Linked DNA regions of Homo sapiens. The protein of the gene in region 1 purifies or fractionates together with the protein of each later gene. This does not show direct contact. Each region holds a gene or a part of one and is shown in the gene's direction. Other genes may lie near its edges.

Region 1 (7,038 bases):
GCAAACAAAGAGACAGACTGTTTCCTTTACTAATCATGTCTTTATAATCCGATGCCTATTTTAGCTGTTTTTTGACCATCTGTCTGTGTTTTGTTTACCTACAATCTAGCACTCTTATTGCCACTGTTGTATCATGATTCCACAAAAAAAAAAAAAGATATTGAAGCATTAAAATAGAAACAACATAATCATTCAGGTTATTGGGCCATGTTAAAAGTTGAGCCACCTAGCCAAAATGCACTTAAGTACACGGTGGGTCACAATTAAAATGGTTATGCATTTTTTTTAAGAGGGGGAATTGCTTTTTTACTCTACTAGCTAAAAAGGCATGAACTCAGATTTTTCAGGCTGAGATGTAAAAACCTATGGTGTTACTGCATTTACAAAATAGCATATACCTTGAATAACAGTAAGAGTCTGCTTTGTTACCTATATGGATCTAAATCAGTCTGTTGACACAAAATCTCTAATGGCAGAGTATCTATGATAGTCTACTCACACCTCTTTTTTTCTTCGCAAAAATATTAACCATACCATAATACCTTAATATTCATAATGAGGCTTAAGAATGCATCAGTAAGAAAACAGACTTAAAGAAATGTAATAGTTCTGTGGTGTTTGGAAAAAATAAAAAACACAGTTACTCACCATTAAAAAACCTCACCTCTAATCTCCCTTGCTTTCTATGAAGCTGAAATTACATTTCTTTTACTCCGTGTCCTATATTTAAACACAGAATCTCATAGATAATAATCATTCTACTGTAAGTTAAAATAAATGTAGTCTGCACACCAGTGAAGGTCAAATATAATAGAAACTAGAAGATCTTATTTTTTATCTCAAAATGCTACCCAATTTCTAAGAAATTTCTACTCAGCTAGCCTGAGGCTTTGATAAAGAATAAAAGTTTCCCACTTTGTAATTACAAACTTGTGATTGCTTAACAATGCATTTTCACTTACAAATCATGCTCTGGAAAGAAAAACAATGCACAAGAGCTTTTAGCAACTGGAAAGTTATTTGATTACAACTCTTTTGCAAAAATGAACTCCATATTTAACTGCAATCAGCAACCTTTTAAAAGCCTCTTTTGTGCTTAAAACCAGGCTTCCCAGAGCCTGCATCAGTCATAATTGGGTTTCTGAAGTCTACATAGCTCAGTTCATTTGCCTTCTGTGTTCAGATTCATAAGAGAATCAGAGTTTTATTAAAAATAAATAGGAAGAGGGAGAAATCCCAATATGCAGCATTGTGAACAAATCGATCTTTTCCAAAATGTCCACTGATATTTATGTATGCTGTATTCTGTCATTTATTTCAGCTGCTGGTAGGGATCATTCAGGCTGCCGAACTGCCCGCCTTGGACATGGGGGGCACATCTGATCCTTACGTGAAAGTGTTTCTGCTACCTGATAAGAAGAAGAAATTTGAGACAAAAGTCCACCGAAAAACCCTTAATCCTGTCTTCAATGAGCAATTTACTTTCAAGGTATTTGTTAACATTTATTTATAACCTTTCCTTTGTTGTTTTACTTAAAAGACTGATCTCATCCTGACACATACATAGACATGCACATGAATGCTTGTTCAGGCACTCACAATAATTCCAGTCAGAATATGCAAAATTCTTATCTTCACTACAGTCAACATTCGATATTGCCTTTCAGCGTGTTCAGAGTAGGATTCGGTTCAGTCATTTCAGAATGGAATGGACTAGAACATGACTAGGATGTCATAGTCACATCTAAAAAGTGAGATCCCTCCCTGAAATAAAGCCAAAGGAATGAAATCATTATTTTTCTGAATTTCAAAGTTTGTGAAAATAAGTACATCTGTTACAATCCCAGGATTAAGTAAGCTGTGTCCCAATGCTTAAATGGTACAAATAGACATGACTCTTGTAACAAAATTGTGTGTGTAGAGGGCAATTTGAGCACTTCAAAGTCATTCTTCTTAACTAATCAATAAAAGGAATATGAACATATTTTTTATTGCATTTCTAGCCTTCTTCCTTTACTCTAGGTTCTGCCCTGATGTTCTTCATCTTGTTGAGGCACCTCAGTTGACAAACAACAGAGAGATTCCAGCCATATAATATCTCATCAGGAAAACATGTCCTGCAGGTCTCCAGGATCTTCGTGGATCTTGGCTTGAAATCATTCATTAAAAACAATTCTTTTGGTGGATATCTTTAACGTGCGAAAAAAACTTTTTAATGCATTACTTAGAACAATATGTTTCTGAAAAATGAAATATCTGTGAATATGCCAGCAGGCTAATTCAAAATCACCACGTCCATCAGCCAGGCTTAGCATATGCCTTGTGTTGGCAAACATTCTGGGATGAAATAAATTGAAAATGAGGGCATGAGTCATTTTCTCAAACCTTGTTTTCAATTATGTAAAGGGGAAGTGTCTTTCTATTCACTCTAAAATTTCTGAGTTTTCAAGACAAAGGTCCCTCATGTATTGTCAGTAATCTTATTTAAAATCTGGTTTTTCTGTACCTAAGCAGTGAATTTAAAGTAGCAGTAAAGACATTCTGGAAATACTCAGTTCATGAAGAGTATCTGCTCATGAAGCTTAATCACTATAGTCAACATACTACGAAACGTAAAATGGAAATAAAATTTTAAAAATATTGTAATAGTAATCACAGTTGTTTTATTCATCTATTTATTAACCTTAACTTAGGTCAGCAGTTTCTGACCAAAACTTAGTAAGGAAATTCTTAAATTATATGAGCTAATGTATTGGGGCTTTGTTTTGTATTGCATTACCTACATTATTATTTCTTTAAAAAATGCTAATAATTTTATTAGTAATTTCTATAAAACCAAGTATAATTATTGAAATTTTTGAATTCTCTATACATTTTTATCAAGTTTCATTTTATTTCAGAAAGGTTGATCAAACTATACATAAATCCAAAGTATAATATATTCTGCTATATTAAAAAATACTTCAATTTTTCTAGAGAACTGGTTAGACATTGTAGATTACTCATCTTGAAATGCCAAGAGGCAATATGATACAGGAATGGAAGTATAAAAGACTTTAAAGAAGCCTGGCTTTACAATGGATTTAAATCACTTAACAGGAACTCAACATGCCCCAAATTAATTCATCTTCTTTTCCCCCAAAACAGTTATCTGAAGGAGCTACTAATCATTCAAACAATAAATATTTTTAAGTGCTTCTTCTGTGCTAGGTGTTTTACATATATTCATTCATCCCTAAAATAGCCCCATGAAGCAGCCATTATTACAGTATTATCACAATTTAATAGATGAATAAACTTATGTTTAATCACGTGCCCCAGGCCCTTTAGTTGGAAAGTCCAAATCTGGTACAAGGTCTGTCTGACCCCAAGTCCAGGTTTTTGACTGTTGCTCTTTGAGTACAATCACTAGAAAGTCTAGAGAGATTTTAGATATACAATAACATTTTCAAGGGTTTATCCTTACTCTAAAAAATTTTGTTTCTTTCTTTGAGAGTCAGCTCTTTGGAAGGGTTTATTTTCCATTCCTTCTAAAATGGAAAAAGGATGATGCTTACTTTTTAATCATATCATTTTAATAAAATAATCAGGTTCCAAACAGATGGTAAATAAATGACAGAAAAGAAAAACTCTTTGGAAAACTAAAATTTCTTGTATGTAGATGGCCCAATATTCTTCCTTTTCTTCCCTCCTTAATATACAGAGTTAATTGAGAAATGTTTGCTGAAGCATAAGACAACCATTTACACTGATAAAATAATAGGAAGTGTATGAAAATTGATCAAACCTTTAAGACAAGTCTAAACAATTTCTTAATTAGGTATTTCTACCCAGTTACTGAAGTGTAGCTTACTTGGATTGCACTGCTTTCACTGAATATTAAAAATGTCACTAATAAACATCCCAACCCATAGCATCTGTCCCAGATATATTTGAACAGCTGGAGAATTCATCAGTTCTTGGCCTTTTGCCACCACTCATCCTAAGGCATGTCATACCCAAGAATGAACTTCAAAACCCATATTATAATGCACCTCTTATATTCAAAACATCAATTTCCTAGTCAGTTCTTGTCAATCAGCAAATTATTTTAGGGAGTAGGTGAGGCACTTGTGAATATCATTTCAATCCTTTCAGACTCCTAGCATAGCCTTTAATAAATCATTGCTCCATTGAACTGTGGCATTTAAATGCCTTGAAAGAGTTAATGGAGCATTTGAAATAAGTTATTTGCCCCTCAGTAAGTTACACCCTGACAATACAACTTAAAACAACAATAACAACAAAATATTCTACAAGAAAAACTTACTTATAGTCAAATGCAATTGGCTTGTTTATTGTTTTATTAATCTTAAGGCTTTATAGTATAACTAACAGCAGGATCCATTATTAATAATGCTAACAGCTTCTAGAACTTTGAGATAAGGCAATAAATCACTAAAATTTCCCATTTTCTCTCAAGTAATTTTAGCCTCAAGCAGTTTGTCAAAAGTCTGAATTTAAAAAATAACCAAAAACAAAATTATCTCCCTGTTCTGTTTATGCAACGTAAATATTAAATTAAGCACCATGAACAAGTAACATGTTTTAAGCATTTTTGTGACTGGATATTTTATCCTCATGTCTTTTAATTTAGGTACCATACTCGGAATTGGGTGGCAAAACCCTAGTGATGGCTGTATATGATTTTGATCGTTTCTCTAAGCATGACATCATTGGAGAATTTAAAGTCCCTATGAACACAGTGGATTTTGGCCATGTAACTGAGGAATGGCGTGACCTGCAAAGTGCTGAGAAGGAAGAGGTAAGGGAATTACTAGCATTTCTAACATCACAAGCTGTACTCGCCAGTTGCTGCTCATATAATAACTTATTGAGAAATACTCTTTACAAAGGGGGATGTGGGCCTCTAGTTGTTGACAGCTGATAAAATAGGGTCAAGGGCACTGCACCACCTCGTTAAAAAGTGTACAGGTCTTCTGGGTGTTATCTGAAAGAAGAGAGACATTTGTGTACTGGATCTAGAAACAGCAACCCTGGACACAAACAAACACACATGCCCACAGGAACTCTTTCTAAAAGCTTACAAAAGGCCACACACACTCATAAACTACTGCTTTAAAATGACAACGAAAAATTATTTTATTTCTCATTTTTCCACAATCATTTTGTGTTTTCTGCATAGGTTATGTAGCTATTACACAGAAATAAAATGGTACTTTTTCCTTGATTGTTTCTGCATATCACAGACAGTTCATTGTTTCTCCTAAAGATACGAGAGCATGATTGGTCAAACATCAAATATAATTCACAAAGCCTGATATTAAATCCATTTTTTAAATGACTCACATTTTTATGCTACTCCTCACATTGTTTATTCCCAGTTTTAATAGTTTAGCCCAGTATTTTTCCATGACTTGAAAAGGGAAGTTCAATATGTTTAGTGCATTTAAGCTTCATAATAATCAATTGTATCTGATTATGCGATGCCTGCCTGGCACCAGCATTTTTCTCTGCAAACATTTCAGTAGACCAATACTAGAAAAGCAAACAACCCTTAGCTTCTCCAAATTCCTAAAACAACTCCTTTCGCAGTCACTCTTTAGTTCCTGACGTAAGGCTGTAATTACGCAAGAGATTGCTGACAGCTCAGTCATTTAGGATCTCCAGGTCCCTAGGATTCCCTGGCCTCTTGGGGTCACCAGGGAGATCAGAGAGAACGTCAGGCCTTCAGAGAAACTCAATCAAGTCCATCACCTGGGAATCCTCTCAGCCTAAGGTTTTCTGTGACCAATCTGAGGCTATGAACTTTATACCCCCTATATGATGAAATGAGGTTTTAGAACAGGCCTATTAATTCCCATGCTGAAATTGAACTTTTCACTCTAACATTGCTGTTTGCTATTTGATTTTACAAAATGAGTCAAAAATACTTAAGTTAAACTCTGCTCTTTTTTTTGGAAAAAAGTATGTATACTTATACTTTCCAAAAAAGAGAGCAGAGCTTAAGTATTTTTGTATATAATATTCATGTATACTTATTATATATATATATATATATATATATATATATATATTTACTGTCTCAATATCTAAGAATGTTGACTAACCTTTCTTAGACATTGACACAGATTTAGCCCTACTGTGGATATTCAAGAATACCCAGGAAAAATACCGAGTTTTAAAATTATATGATTTTATGGATAGTTCTTTCCTATAAGTGAACTAATAGTAATGTTACAGACATCTTCATGAAAAAAAAAATTCGATCATTCAGTTACAATGTTTATAATTATTTAACAAAGTAGTGGGATGTTTCATTGACTTTTTTGTTGAAGTGTTTGACTTTGTGTAAATTTTTTGGGTGATAAAGTAGGACCATAAGAAATGTTTATTAACTGATTGGTTTTATTAATTGACTGGTGTTTGGTTGGCTTGTTGGTTGAATATGAGAACATGAACCACTGGTACTTCACAATGCCCACTTGTGCAGGGTGCATGGTTCACACTTGTTACTTTCACCTGGATAATTATCAGGTGGTAATGACATCCAAGATCACACCCAGTGGGTTTCTGAAAAATTGTGCAATGTTTTTTTCTGAGCTAAGGGAATGTGGACCATTGAGCAAGTTTCCTCTTTCAGAAATCTTTGAGTACGAGCAGAGTTTGAAACTTAACACCAGGCTGACGGGTTTCACTCTAGAATCTAGGGGTTTAGGTAAACTGCCCATTCAGAATTTTAACCTAGAAAGTGGCCTAACATGATTTACCCCTTATCTTACTTACCGATGAAATAGAATAGAACATGAAGTACCCAGCATAGAGTCTGGCATATGGTAAATGTTCACTAAGTGAGAGGTCTCTCATACCTTTTTCTTGGTTAATTTTGTGTGTGTGTTCTCTTTCCCCATTTTGTGTGTTCATCTCCTCATTTGTTGTGTCTCTTCCCTCTATTTTTATCTACTTCGCTATCCTTTTTCTCACCATTGCACTTACTGAGTATCTGTAGGAGTTATTAATGGGAAATATTAATTTTAT
Region 2 (7,038 bases), on another chromosome or scaffold:
TACAGGCGTGAGCCACCACGTCCAGCTCATCTTTTGACTCTTAAGGGTCCAGTGCTCTTTTCATAATAACATTTGATGTGGTGGATGTTATATAATACCAAAATGAAATTAAATTACACTTTGAGGCAATGCTTGCTAGAATCTACATGACCATATCTTTACATTGTGAATGTTATGCAGGAGCCTTCACTTTGTGCCTTGGGTATAGTAGGTGTTAAGTGCTGCACTTTAGATGTTGATGTGCTGGGCCCAGGAGTAATAATAATTATAGTAAAGTTGCAACATTATTTGGCAATTTGATGTTGAATAGATTGTTTCTTCTGAACGTTACATTTTAACACATTTGTTCTTAAAATTACATCATTGTAAGAGAAAGTACTTTCAGTTTAAATCAGTAAAGATCGGTCAGGTGCAGTGGCTCATGCCTCTAATCTCAGCACTTTGGGAGGCCCAGGCAGGAGGCCTGAGGCCAGGAGTTTGAGACCAGCCTGGGCAGCATAGTGAAACCCCATCTCTATAAAAAATTAATTAAAAGAATTAGCCAGGCGGCCAGGTGCAGTGGCTCATACCTGTAATCCCAGCACTTTGGGAGGCCAAGGTGGGCAGATCACCTGAGGTTGGGAGTTCGAGACCAGCCTGACCAATGTGGAGAAACCCTGTCTCTACTAAAAATACAAAATTAGCTGGGCAGCTGGGCGTGGTGGTGCATGCCTATAATCCCAGCTCTTTGGGAGGCTGAGGCAGGAGAATCACTTGAACCTGGGAGGCAGAGGTTGTGGTGAGCTGAGATCGTGCCACTGCACTTCAGCCTGGGCAACAAGAGAGAAACTCCGTCTCAAAAAAAAAAAAAAAGCCAGGCATGGTGGTACCCACCTGTAGTCCCAGCTGCTCCAGAGGTTGGGGCAGGAGGATTGCTTTAGTGCAGGAGGTTGAGGCTGCAGTGAGCCATGATCTTACCACTGCACTTCCAGACTGGGCAATGGAGCAAGACTCTGTCTCTAAATAAACAATAAATAAATAGGATGGGCACGTGGCTCACACCTGTAATCCCAGCACTTTGGGAGGCCGACTCCGGTGGATCACCTGAGGTCAGGAGTTTGGGACCAGCCTGGCCAACATGGTGAAACCCCATCTCTACTAAAAATACAAAATTAGCCAGGCATGGTGGCCCATGCCTGTGATCCCAGCTACTCGGGAGGCTGAGGCAGGAGAATCGCTTGAACTTGGGAGGTGGAGGTTGCAGTGAGCCGAGATCACGGCATTGCACTCCAGCCTGGCAACAAGAGTGAAATTCCATCTCCAAAAATAAATACATAAATAAAGATTTATGACCTTCTACTGTGCCTCTGTTCTGTGGTAGTTTCTGTAAAGAGATTCTTTTCAAAGTCAAATAGGTTTGTTTATTACCTTGAGTTTGAAAAAAGGAATTAACAGTTTGGTTTGTTTTTATAATTGTGTTCTGTAAATCTAGGTTCAGATACAAGCCTACGTTTGTGTTTATAGTGATATCTTTAAAAATTGGAGGAATAAGATGAGCCGATGGCTGAATTATTGGAGGAGTCTTAAGTCATTTCATACTTTTCAGAAGCCTAACATGCTTGTGTTTCTGCTGTTAATTCTAGTCAGGCATCTTTTAATATTTTCTTTTTTCTCTCTTTTTTTTTTTTTTTTTTTGAGACAGGATCTCACTCTGTCACACAGGTTGGAGTGCAGTGGTCCAATCTCAATCTCGGCTCACTGCAACACCTGCCTCCCAGGCTCAAATGATCCTCCCACTTCAGCTTCCCAAGTAGCTGGAACCATAGGCACAAGCCACCACCCCTGGCTAATTTTTTGTATTTTTGGTAGAGATGGGGTCTCGCCATGTTGCCCAGGCTGGTCTCGAACTCCTGAGCTCATGTGATCCACACACCTCAGCCTCCCAAAGTGCTGGGATTACAGATGTGAGCCACCTCACCCAGCCTAATATTTTCAAAGAATAAAAATTCACACATCAGAAGTCCACTTGGTAAACTCTTACTTCTTCAGAGTCAGCTCAAGCATCACTTTCTATAAAAACTTCTCTGTGTTTTCAATGAAAACTAGGTGTTCCTTTTATTGTATGCCCACTGTATCTTGGATATTTTTCTGCTGTGGCACTAATGACATATATTGTGATTTACTGAATTTGTCTTCTCCACTTAATTGTGAATAACTCAAGGGCAAAGCCCCTGCATTCCTATCCTCCCACTTTTACCAAGGATAGAACTGAGAATACATATTGGTAGACATAATGTTTATCTGCAGCTAAGCTTTTCTTACTGTGATTGCTAGAGTTAGGAATTATGCATTTGACATAGTGGGTATCAGTAACCTAAATAAAAATAGGCTAGTAGTATGTGTGCTTTGATTTTTGTTACATTGTTTTTTTTCTGTTAATTGTTTTTTCTGTACTTGCAGTTTGTAAAAATGGAATTTCAAGCAGTAGTGATGGCAGTAGGTGGAGGATCTCGGATGACAGACCTAACTTCCAGCATTCCCAAACCTCTGCTTCCAGTTGGGAACAAACCTTTAATTTGGTACCCATTGAACCTGCTTGAGCGTGTTGGATTTGAAGGTGAGCTATGACAAAGTGAGCTGTGAACTCATAAAACTTTTAGGAGATTTGATCCCCATGATTTGTCAGCGTTATGAGAATGAGAGAGGGTGACTAGAACTCGTTGGCTGAAGACTGCCTTCTTTAAGGAATGTAGGAGTACTCTATTGCTGTGTGAAAAAGGTTGAGAGGATAGCACTAAGTGTTGTTGTTATGGAGCTGATGTCCACAATGATCCAAGACGAACTCTGTAAAGATATCAGAAAGAGCAGATTGAGACTCTTAAATGCCTCATAGTCAGTACTTACTGAGAATCTATTATGTACCAGGTAATATTTATATTATCTGATATTCAATATATATATGTTTTAAATTTTGTTTTGATGTAAGTACCAGGTTATATATTAAACACGGAGGTACAGAATTGAAAAGACAGCTCAGGCCCTGACTTCCAGAACTTTAAAGTCTAGTGATCCTCTCTACTTTTTGCTTGGGTAGCTAGGTAGATAGTTATGCCATTAAGTAGGAAAAGGAATAGGAGACAAGGAACAGGTGTTTTTTTTTTGAGACAGAGTCTCACGCTGCCACCCAGGCTGGAGTGCAGTGGCACGATCTTGGCTCACTACAACCTCCGCCAGGGTTCAACCTCTCCCGGGTTCAAGTGATTCTCCTGCCTCAGCTTCCTGTGTAGCTGGGACTACAGGCATTTTCCACCATGCCCGGCTAAGTTTTTGTATTTTTAGTAGAGACAGGGTTTCACCATGTTAGCTAGAATGGTCTCGATCTCAGGACCTCGTGATCTGCCCACCTCGGCCTCCCAAAGTGCTGGGATTACAGGCATGAGCCACCGTGCCTGGCCAGGAAAAGGTTTTAATGAATTTTATTTTCATTAAAATAATGAGTTCAGCTTTGGTCACATTGAGTTTGAGGTGTCCTATATTTAGATGTAATAAATCAGGGTGCCAAAGCCTGAGGCCCAGTCTTGTGATCCAGTGTTCATTCCATTATTAGAGTTGCCTCCAATAGGAAGGGTGGTAGCTTAATAGCTCTCTCTTTGTATTGAATGAAGATTTAAAATGTTGGAGTCTCACCCTGTCGCCCAGGCTGGAGTACAGTGGTGTGATCTCAGCTCACTGCAACCTCCACCTCCCAGGTTTAAGCAATTCTCCTGCTTCAGTCTCCCGAGTACCTGGGACTACAGGCGTGTACCACCACTCCCGGCTAATTTTTTTGTATTTTTAATAGAGACAGGGTTTCGCCATGTTGTCCAGGCTGGTCTTGAACTTCTGACCTCAAGTGATCTGCCTGTCTCGGCCTTCCAAAGTGTTGGAATTACAGGTGTGAGCCACTACGCATGGCCCCCTTTGGTTTTTTTGTTTTTTAGAGACAGAGTCTTGCTCTGTCGTCCAAGGCTGGAGTACAGTGGCATGATTTCAGCTCATTGCAACCTCTGCCTCCTGGGATCAAACGATCCTCCCATCTTAGCCTCCTGAGTAGCTGCAACTACATGCATGCCACCACACCTGGATAATTTTTCTTTCCTCCTTTTTTTTTTTTTTTTTTTTTTGGCAGAGACAGGGTTTCGCCACGTTACCCAGGCTGGTCTTGAGTTCCTGGGCTGAAGTTATCTGCCTGCCTTGGCTTCCCAGAGTGTTTTTTATATTTCTTCCCATTTGTATTTTTGATTAATGTTCTTCTGAATTCTTCATATCAAGGAGAAGTGGCATATAATATATTAAAGTGTGGGCACCATTCATATAGACCTGAGGTTTTTTTTTGTTTGTTTGTTTGTTTTGAGACAGACTCACTCTGTTACCCAGGCTGGAGTGCAGTGGGGTGATCTTGGCCCACTGCAACCTCCACCTCCCAGACTCAAGCAATCCTCCCACCTAAACCTCTGGTTTTTTGGAGTTTTTTTATAGAGACAAGGTTTTGCCATGTTGCCCAGGCTGGTCTTGAACTCCAGGGCTCAAGTGATCCGCCTGCCTCGGCCTCCCAAAGTGCTGGGATTTACAGGCATGAGCCACTGCGCCCAGCCAGCATGTCTTTTAATCCAAGATTCCTCATTTGTAAGATGAGATTGTTCTAAGAATTAATTGGGGGGAGGCCAGATGCAGTGGTTCACGTCTGTAATCACAACACTTGGGGAGGCCAAGGCTGGCGGATCCTTTGAGCCCAGGAGTTGGAGACCAGCCTGGGCAACAGAGCGAAACCTCATCTCTACAGAAAATACAAAAATTAGCCAAGCATGGTGGCACATGCCTGTAGTCTCAGCTACTTGGGAGGCTGAGGTGGGAGGATTGCCTGATCTTGGGAGGTTGAGGCTGCTGTGAACTGCGACAGTGCCACTGCACTCCAGCCTGAGTGGCAGAGTGAGACCCTGTCTGTAAAAAAAAAAAAAAAAAAAAAAAAAAAAAAAAGAATTTATTGGGGGAATGCAGGTAAAATATATTGAAAAGGCACAATAATATTAGCAGTTGTTATTACACCTAGAAATAGACCAAATCTAATTGAAATAATGGAACCACTGTCTATATGAGTAAGTTTTTGTTTTTCTTTCTTTTTTTCTTTTGTCCTATAGAAGTCATTGTGGTTACAACCAGGGATGTTCAAAAGGCTCTATGTGCAGAATTCAAGATGAAAATGAAGCCAGATATTGTGTGTATTCCTGATGACGCTGACATGGGAACTGCAGATTCTTTGCGCTACATATATCCAAAACTTAAGGTGAAAAGCAATTTTTTGACTCTTCTTGTTTATTGAAGATAGATGATATCTTATGTTTTCCCAGTGCATTATAGTCTTTTTTTTGAGACAGAACCTCGCTCTGTCACCTAGGCCGGAGTGCAGTAGTGTGATCTCAATTCACTGCAACCTCCACCTCCCGGGTTCAAGCAATTCTCCTGCCTCAGCCTCCCAAGTAGCTGGGATTACAGGCATACGCCACCGTGCCTGGCTAATTTTGTATTTTTAGTATAGATGGGATGTTGGCCAGGCTAGACTCGAACTCCTGACCTCAGGTGATCCACCCTCCTCGGCCTTCCAAAGTGCTGGGATTACAGGCGTGAGCCATCACGCCTGGCCCCCAGTGCATTATAGTTTACAAAACTTTATTTCTGATATATTTTTACATCACATACTTTGTTACCCATGTACTCTTCAGTTGCTCTTTGATTTGGTTACTAGTAAAGATTTAGACATTAATTTGTCATAGTCACTGGTTTCCAATGTTTTTGAGTAATAGCACATTTTTATTAAAAAAGAAAAAAAAGACATACTCTAGGCCAGGCACAGTGGCTTATGCCTGTAATCCCTTTGGGAGGCCAAGGCAGGTGGATCACTTGAGGTCAGGAGTTTGAGACCAGCCTGGTCAACGTGGTAAGACCCTGTCTCTACTAAAAAGACAAAAATTAGCTGGGCATGGCGGTGCACATCTGTAATCCTAGCTACTGGGGAGGCTGAGGCAGGAGAATCGCTTGAACCCAGGAGGTGGAGGTTGCAGTGAGCCGAGATCATGCCACTGCACTCCAGCCTGGGCAACAGAGTGAGATCCCATCTCAAAAAAAAAAAAAAGATATACTCTAAATGTACTTCAAAAGATTCCATTCATATGAAGTTTGTGAACAAGCAATGTTAATGTATAAATCAGAGGAGCAGTTGACTCTGCAGGTGAGGATTGACTAGAAAGAAGTACAAAGGAACGTTCAAAAATTCATAGACCTCCCATGTAATATTTGAACTTTTAGTTAACCTTTGGTTAAGAAACTAAGGAGCACATAGATATGAGAACATAGTCTCCCCAATGGTTTGTGGCCCATGAGCTGAGAAAGATCCACTGTAGATTGTTCTAAAATTGTTTTTCTTTGGAAAAAATTCAATCGTTGTGATGTTGCCATATTACTTGAAATGGGAGACAAACTTTCTTCTGTTATTTCTGGTGATTAAACGGATGTGTTATTTTCAACCGACTTTTGTACTATAAAACAAAAAATTAATGCAAATATGTACATGGCTTTCCCACCCCTTTTATTGAGGAATAATTTATACACAGTAAAATGCACAGATACTAAATATACACCTAGATTACCATTATCCAAATCTAGAACAATTCCATCACCCCTGAAAGTTCCTTTGTGCTTCTTTCTAGTAAGTCTCTGATCTTCTGAGTCAACCACTCTTCTGTTTCTATCACTATGTATTAATTTTATTTGCTTATAAACTTCATATAAATGGAAACATACAATTTTGTTCTGGCTTCTTTTGTTCAACATATTTTTCAGATTCTTTCATGTTATTGAAAGTATAACTAATCTGTTCCTTTTCATGCTTAGTAGTATTCCATTGAATGAATATACTACTATTTATTTATCTATCCTCCTATTGACAGTTATTTGGGTTGTTTCTAATTTTTGGCTATCATGCATAAAGCTATTATGAGCATTGTTCTGCAGGTCTTTTTGTGA
Region 3 (7,038 bases), on another chromosome or scaffold:
TGGTGTCTTGACATAAGTCATTGTCACTTGGGAAGTGATCTGTGGGATAGTTTGGAGGAGTTTCTTTTGTGTCTAGCCCCATCTAGCATCGAATTACCTGGGGACATTAAATCTAATGCTAATTCTTTATTAAACTGTTATCACTTCCTAATTAGAAACTAACAATTGTCTATGAAGTAAAAGATGACATCTTTCATATTTTTTATATTTTCTCCCTTTTCTCTACAGTTAATTGAGAACTGTTCATTGTTGCTACAAATAGAAATGGTAGTACAGCCTTTTCTTAATGGGAACTATAGAAACTCAGATGATGGATACTGAAACAAATAGCTTCACTTAGAAATTTGTTGTTCTTGTATATAGAATACATACCAGCAACTAGATAATCTACAGCATTATTAATTTAGGATCAGTAAGCAGCATGGTTAAATAATTTGAGTGGTGAGCTGTGGTGTTAACTGGATTTCTTTCTGAACAAAGTCATTGACCATTTTGTAAGCAAAAAGTCCATTCTCCAAGCTCTAATTGTGTCAAACTCTTAAATTTCTTGTGACCTATTCTGTTTCAGTGCCTCAATTGATGACAAGGTTGGTAGACATGTTAAAATGATCGACAATGTCTATAATCCTGCAGCCATTGCTGTTGATTGGGTGTACAAGACCATCTACTGGACTGATGCGGCTTCTAAGACTATTTCAGTAGCTACCCTAGATGGAACCAAGAGGAAGTTCCTGTTTAACTCTGACTTGCGAGAGCCTGCCTCCATAGCTGTGGACCCACTGTCTGGGTTTGTAGTCTGTTTTCCATCACAGACTTTGGAATGGTATCTGTGTAGGTCAGGAGCTTTCTCATACCTGAATTAGTACTCAAATCTCAAGGTTTATGAGCCTTCTGCAACAAAGAATTAGAATTCTAATTTAAGATATCAGTTTTGCCCCAGGTGAGTGACCCTGGGATGTCCTTATCTATATGACAGGTCCTCCTGTCTGACTCTCGTATGACTGATTGCTGGCTGACATTAATGAATTAACATTCCTGATTTGATGTGTGTACCAAAAGCTGTATCTGAACCCTTTTGTCCACCCAGTTTCTACGCAAGTGATTTTTTAATTTTTGACTGAAAGCTTTGCTGGGCTAGCTCTGGATGATCAAACCTAAACGACAGCCTGAATTGTGAGGATTTGGGTAACCACATTGCATCTAAGTGTGCAAGTTGTCTGAAAGTCCAGCAGAAATAAACAGACCTTTCTAGAAACATTTCACTAAGGGGGTTCTGTAAATTGCCACTAAGTAACATAGAAGAGCAGCTCAGGAAGTTGACTAAGGCTGTAGTTGTCATCACAACTGGCCCCCGTGCAGCCTCATTAGAACTCAGTCAGCCAGCCAACCCCTGCTATGAAATTTGAAGGATGTTCGTCTTGCACTCCTCTGTAAGAACTGACCTTTTAAAAAGGAAACATAACCTTGTGACTTTGGGCCGAAATTTAAATGTCAGACAAACATAGATTATTATAGTTAATAATGAGCTTGTAGATTCTTAATATTCAATTTTATTTACCTAGAACATAATTTAGACCCTTAAGTGTTACTATTTGTCACTAGAGAATGCCTTGAGTTTTCTGCTCAAATTTTAAATTTTTGTTTCCAGCTACTACAACTTTATTCCTTCTAAACCACTGAGGCTTATTTCTCATTTAATTTTTCACAGCTTTGTTTACTGGTCAGACTGGGGTGAACCAGCTAAAATAGAAAAAGCAGGAATGAATGGATTCGATAGACGTCCACTGGTGACAGCGGATATCCAGTGGCCTAACGGAATTACACTTGGTATGTATGTTCTTCCTTCTCGACCACCCACTCAACTATCTTCATAGTGTTTCCATTTATCTCCATGGTGAATTCTGGACTAGCAGATGACTCTACTGCTTCCGCCTAAATTCTAGCAGGAATTTTCAATGGGAGTAACTGAACAACACAAGTAAAATGGTGGATTAACAAATTACACATTCCATAATTACTGGCCTGTTGTCCAGCTGGGCCTAATATGTGACACAAATTCAGTGAACGTTGGGTCTTGGGTGCACTCATACTAAATATTCTGGGCATGAGTGCCTTAGCATTTCCTGAATTGCAGGCTTTTAACAGTTTTCTTCTGGCTTTTTGGAGGAGAACAACAAAATGGTAGCCTCTTTTAATATTTTCTGTAATGTGAGTAATATTTCTTAAGTCATTTGCTTTGAGAATCTCAGGTACCCTGTTAGTCCCCAAAAATGAACGTGGATACAGGCTCTGCATGCTGCTTCGCAAGGTTTATGGTGACCCCGTTAAGAAACCCTGCTGGGGAAAGAACCGTGAAAGTAGATTATTAATTCATTAGATATTTTTAATGGAAGCCAGAGTAGTAGTGGCTTGTCATGTAATGACAATTCTTTTCCTACCTAGACCTTATAAAAAGTCGCCTCTATTGGCTTGATTCTAAGTTGCACATGTTATCCAGCGTGGACTTGAATGGCCAAGATCGTAGGATAGTACTAAAGTCTCTGGAGTTCCTAGCTCATCCTCTTGCACTAACAATATTTGAGGTAAGATGTGTCTCACATCAAAGTGTGTACCTTTGAGCTACTATATCACTTTGAGAAGAAATAACAGACATAGCGGGAGGAGGGAAGAGCAGCTGAACATGGCTTGAGAAACTGCTTTCACTTAAAACCTGGTACAAATCAGACACTAAGTCCCAGAAGCACTCCACACCTAAACTTGATTCTTTTACAGTTTTATATCCAGTGTCCCAGTTCAGCATTCAGTAAACTTAGTCCATTAAATGAGAAGTAAATGATGATGACCTTAGAAATGGACTTGTGTTAATCCTGGATGTACATGCTAATTGTGGGCTTCTGTTTTAGGATCGTGTCTACTGGATAGATGGGGAAAATGAAGCAGTCTATGGTGCCAATAAATTCACTGGATCAGAGCTAGCCACTCTAGTCAACAACCTGAATGATGCCCAAGACATCATTGTCTATCATGAACTTGTACAGCCATCAGGTACCGTGGAGAAGCACAGTCCTTAATAACTACTTTAAGGGAAGCAGCATGACACAGAACCTGCTGGATGTCAGTAGCTCTTGGCAACTCAGTTTTCTTTAAAAGGGAACTTTTGCCCTCCTGTACCCTACCTTAAACATTTCACATGTTATTTTTTTATTTCTGCTGCCTCAGAGAAATGGCTTCTCAACTTCAGCTCCTGGCTTTCCTCCCAAGCCTCAGTGTCAGAGCTTTTATTTCTGTTTCATTCATGTCCCCTTGGCCTTCAGCCCCTCTTGCCAAGACTATTGCAGTAGCCTCCAAAGTAGCTTTTGTGCTACAAGCTTTCTCTACTGTTAGTTTGCTAGGATTTTTGCAATGAAGTACCACAGACTATCTTAAACAACAGAAATTTATTGTCTCAAAACTCTGGAGGCCAGAAGTTTGAAATCAAGGTGCCAGGAGGGTTGGTGCCTCTTGAGGGCTGTGAGGGAAGGGTCTGTTCCAGGCCTCTTCTTGGTCTGTTGATGGTGCTCTTCCCCCTTTGTCTCTTCACATCATCGTCCCTCTGTATATGCTCGTGTCCAGCTTTCTTGCTTTCTTTCTTTTTCTGTTTTTTGGAGACTGACTCTTGCTCTGTCACCCAGGCTGGAGTGCAGTGGCACAATCTCGGCTCACTGCAACCTCCGCCTCCTGTGTTCAAGCAATTCTCCTGCCTCAGCCTCCCGAGTAGCTGGGACTACAGGAGTGAGCCACCACGTCCAGCTAAACTTTGTATCTTTAGTAGAGATGGGGTTTCACCATGTTGGCCAGACTGGTCTCGAACTCCTGACCCAAAGTAATCTGCCTGCCTCGGCCTCCTAAAGTGCCGGAATTACAGGCGTGAGCTGTAATAACAGTCATATTGGATTAGAGCCCACCTTAATGACCTCATTTTAACTTGATTACCTCTGTAAATATCCTATCCTCAATATCTCCAAATAAGATCACATTCTGAGGTACTAGGACTTCATTATATGAATTTTAGGGAGGAACACCATTCAACTCATAACACCTACTTTCCCCCTGTGACACACCTGATATAGGATTGTGTAGATTCTCAAACACATCGGGTTATATTATCTCCTGCTGAAAACACTTGGCTGGTTCTATCTAAATAAAGCCTTCAAACCTTCCTAAGGCTGAGTTTCCTTCCACTTTGTTGGAGCAAGTCAAGAGAAAACCAGGAGAACATGCCTAGTCTCCTTTCTCTGAGCCTTCACGCTAAACCTCGGGCAAATAGTGAGAGCCAGTCCTGGTCCCTCACCTCCCTTCCCCACCTCCTCTTTTGGCATCTGTCTCTTAAAGGCATAACTTTTACAGTCTATCTCGAAGAGGTCCCTTATCTGGTGTCCTTAGAGCATGCTGCCTGTACCTGTATACTTATTCTTCCTTGATACTGTTCTCACTTGAAGGATTAGCAGAGTAGACAAGTTTAAGCTCTTGGGGGCAAGGACTCAGGTCTTCAACATGTAGAACAAGGCTTTATATATACTAGGCACCGGAATACCCATTTTAATGGTATTTTTTTTCCTGACTAGGTAAAAATTGGTGTGAAGAAGACATGGAGAATGGAGGATGTGAATACCTATGCCTGCCAGCACCACAGATTAATGATCACTCTCCAAAATATACCTGTTCCTGTCCCAGTGGGTACAATGTAGAGGAAAATGGCCGAGACTGTCAAAGTAAGGCATTTTGTGTTTCAACCACAAGTAGAACCTACAACAAGCAATATAATAAGACACAAGCTTGGATTTTTAAGAATTCTGTCTTAGCTAATTCTTTGAATAGATTTGAGAAGATATCTGCTATTGTATGCCGGGTTATCATGTCATTTCTTTAGAACTGACTTTAACCCATTTCAACATTAAATGAGTTTATAGGAGACTAAAGTGTCAACATACCTTACACTAATTTGTACCTAGTCCCTTAACAGCACTGAGCTAGCCAACTTGCAGGTAATTAAATGAGGCCTTAACATTTTTCCTCAAAAGGAGGAGGACAGAAATTATGCTTAAGGAAGGCCATGGTTACAGAAACCTCATTGCCTCAGTGGGTGACGCTACCCTAAAATAACACTTAGGCTGAATTTGCATTTAGTCTTCTGTTCTTAACTTTTGATTAAGTGGCAAATTAAAGTCATTTGTGTGATCAAGGAGCTTGTATGGTGAGGCTGATGAGGTTTTTATTAGCGTAATTCATGGTCAGGCAGGGATTAGCTCAGTTTACCAAGAAATTAGTTGCAAGACAGTCTGGTATGCCTGGTATACCAGAGCATCTTGAGAACATTTCTCGTAGTTTCCAGGAACATGGGATGTTGTTTAGAGGGATAAAATGTGGTTGTCCATCATTTTGAATTGTCAAATTCCAAACACCGACTGTCCTTCCCAAAGTTTCATGTATCTCTTTTTTGCATGAAGATTGCTATTTCAATGTTGACACATCAGCTGTACAACTTAGTTCAGCAGTGGTTTGTCTATTTTACCTGGTTTTAAAATAACCTTTTACATGGCTTGTCTGGACAAAACAGCTAGCCATGCTGGAACCCTGGCATTAACCAGGTTCTTGGTTTTTATAATTCAGGTACTGCAACTACTGTGACTTACAGTGAGACAAAAGATACGAACACAACAGAAATTTCAGCAACTAGTGGACTAGTTCCTGGAGGTATTGAGTTCAGTACTGCAAACTGTTAATCTCAACTAACAGCCACACTCTTTGTATCTACAGCTTAAATAATTAATGCAGCCTTTAACTACTATTTCTGCCCCAATTGGTAACCTATATTTAAACACCAAAGACTTAAAACTTGCATATCTTTTCCTGACTGATCTTAAAGGTTTCTAGTAGAGAACTGTCAGTGAAATGGCTACTACAGCATGTGACTCAAATACTTCTAAGCCAGAGTTGTTCCTGGTGTTCAATTGTTGTAGATACTGAACATCAATATTGGATGCAAAGGTTTTGGCTCCTTACCTGATGGGTAAATTTCTAAGTCTGAATACAGATCCTTCTAAACTGATTCCTTTTATTCCTCTGTAGGGATCAATGTGACCACAGCAGTATCAGAGGTCAGTGTTCCCCCAAAAGGGACTTCTGCCGCATGGGCCATTCTTCCTCTCTGTAAGTAGATTTCCTACAAGTCTGGGTTCAAGAACTTCTTAGATACCAGATGAAGATTTTTTGTTCATCTGGAGCTACCCCTTTCATGGGCCTTTATGCTGTCTAGCATTTATGACACTGAATTACGTTCGCTTTCTCCCCCACATAATACACTAAATTAAGGCCCATATCTTTCTCTTCAGTTGTACCTTTGGCACAGTAACTGGCAATGATAAGTGTTCAACGGTTAATGCTTTCTACTTCCGCACTGTTAACCTGGCTTATCCCCTTTTATAATAAGTCTCTTTAACTAGTGTACTGTTCTGTTCCCCCTTTGAAATGTGTGTAATGCTTCATACAGAGGAGATGCACAAATGCTTAAATGCTAAGAGTTACAGGACTTGTTGAGGATAAATTAAAAGCAGTTAAGAATTTTCAAACCTATGGAAAAGGACCTCTAAACGAGACACGCAAATTCTAAGGACTTTGCTATAAAAACCTTTGTCCTAAATGAAGAGACCCAAGCTTAGCTAACACGCCAGGACCACCTGAATAGCTCTCCAGAACCTTCTGCAATTTTAATTTGGTGAGCCTAAGGTGGGACCGAGGACCCTGCCCTTGCCTGGATGGATGTGGCTAGTCCAGCTCCAGTGCACAGAGCTACCTCTGGGCTGAACTTGTTTCAAGCTCCTGGCCCATGTGTATTCCAACTTCTAGTTATCCTAGCTCCATAAAACATGGCATTTTTACTAATGTCAATTATTATGGATTCCTGAACGTTATTACCTTTCTTGTATGTTCCAATACTAGACTTAGCTCACTTAGCTACCCTCTGATTTTTTTCAGTGCTCTTAGTGATGGCAGCAGTAG

What was found. Proteins that work in one complex are often made in the same cells at the same time.
Region 2: the proteins of SYT1 (region 1) and EIF2B3 purify together in Homo sapiens (co-immunoprecipitation; 3 studies listed by BioGRID and IntAct, with this or other methods). This does not show direct contact.
Region 3: the proteins of SYT1 (region 1) and VLDLR purify together in Homo sapiens (co-immunoprecipitation; 3 studies listed by BioGRID and IntAct, with this or other methods). This does not show direct contact.

The regions. Positions count from the first base shown.
Region 1 is NC_000012.12:79,294,748-79,301,785, forward strand, and holds part of SYT1 (synaptotagmin-1), read left to right. Parts: intron 1-1,321; coding exon 1,322-1,489; intron 1,490-4,636; coding exon 4,637-4,804; intron 4,805-7,038. UniProt on the Homo sapiens protein: Calcium sensor that participates in triggering neurotransmitter release at the synapse. May have a regulatory role in the membrane interactions during trafficking of synaptic vesicles at the active zone of the synapse.
Region 2 is NC_000001.11:44,976,579-44,983,616, reverse strand, and holds part of EIF2B3 (translation initiation factor eIF2B subunit gamma), read left to right. Parts: intron 1-2,439; 5' UTR 2,440-2,448; coding exon 2,449-2,596; intron 2,597-5,156; coding exon 5,157-5,302; intron 5,303-7,038. UniProt on the Homo sapiens protein: Acts as a component of the translation initiation factor 2B (eIF2B) complex, which catalyzes the exchange of GDP for GTP on the eukaryotic initiation factor 2 (eIF2) complex gamma subunit.
Region 3 is NC_000009.12:2,645,766-2,652,803, forward strand, and holds part of VLDLR (very low-density lipoprotein receptor isoform a precursor), read left to right. Parts: intron 1-568; coding exon 569-787; intron 788-1,708; coding exon 1,709-1,827; intron 1,828-2,442; coding exon 2,443-2,582; intron 2,583-2,903; coding exon 2,904-3,045; intron 3,046-3,418; exon of another isoform or gene 3,419-4,604; coding exon 4,605-4,751; exon of another isoform or gene 4,752-5,649; coding exon 5,650-5,733; exon of another isoform or gene 5,734-6,108; coding exon 6,109-6,189; exon of another isoform or gene 6,190-7,014; coding exon 7,015-7,038. UniProt on the Homo sapiens protein: Multifunctional cell surface receptor that binds VLDL and transports it into cells by endocytosis and therefore plays an important role in energy metabolism.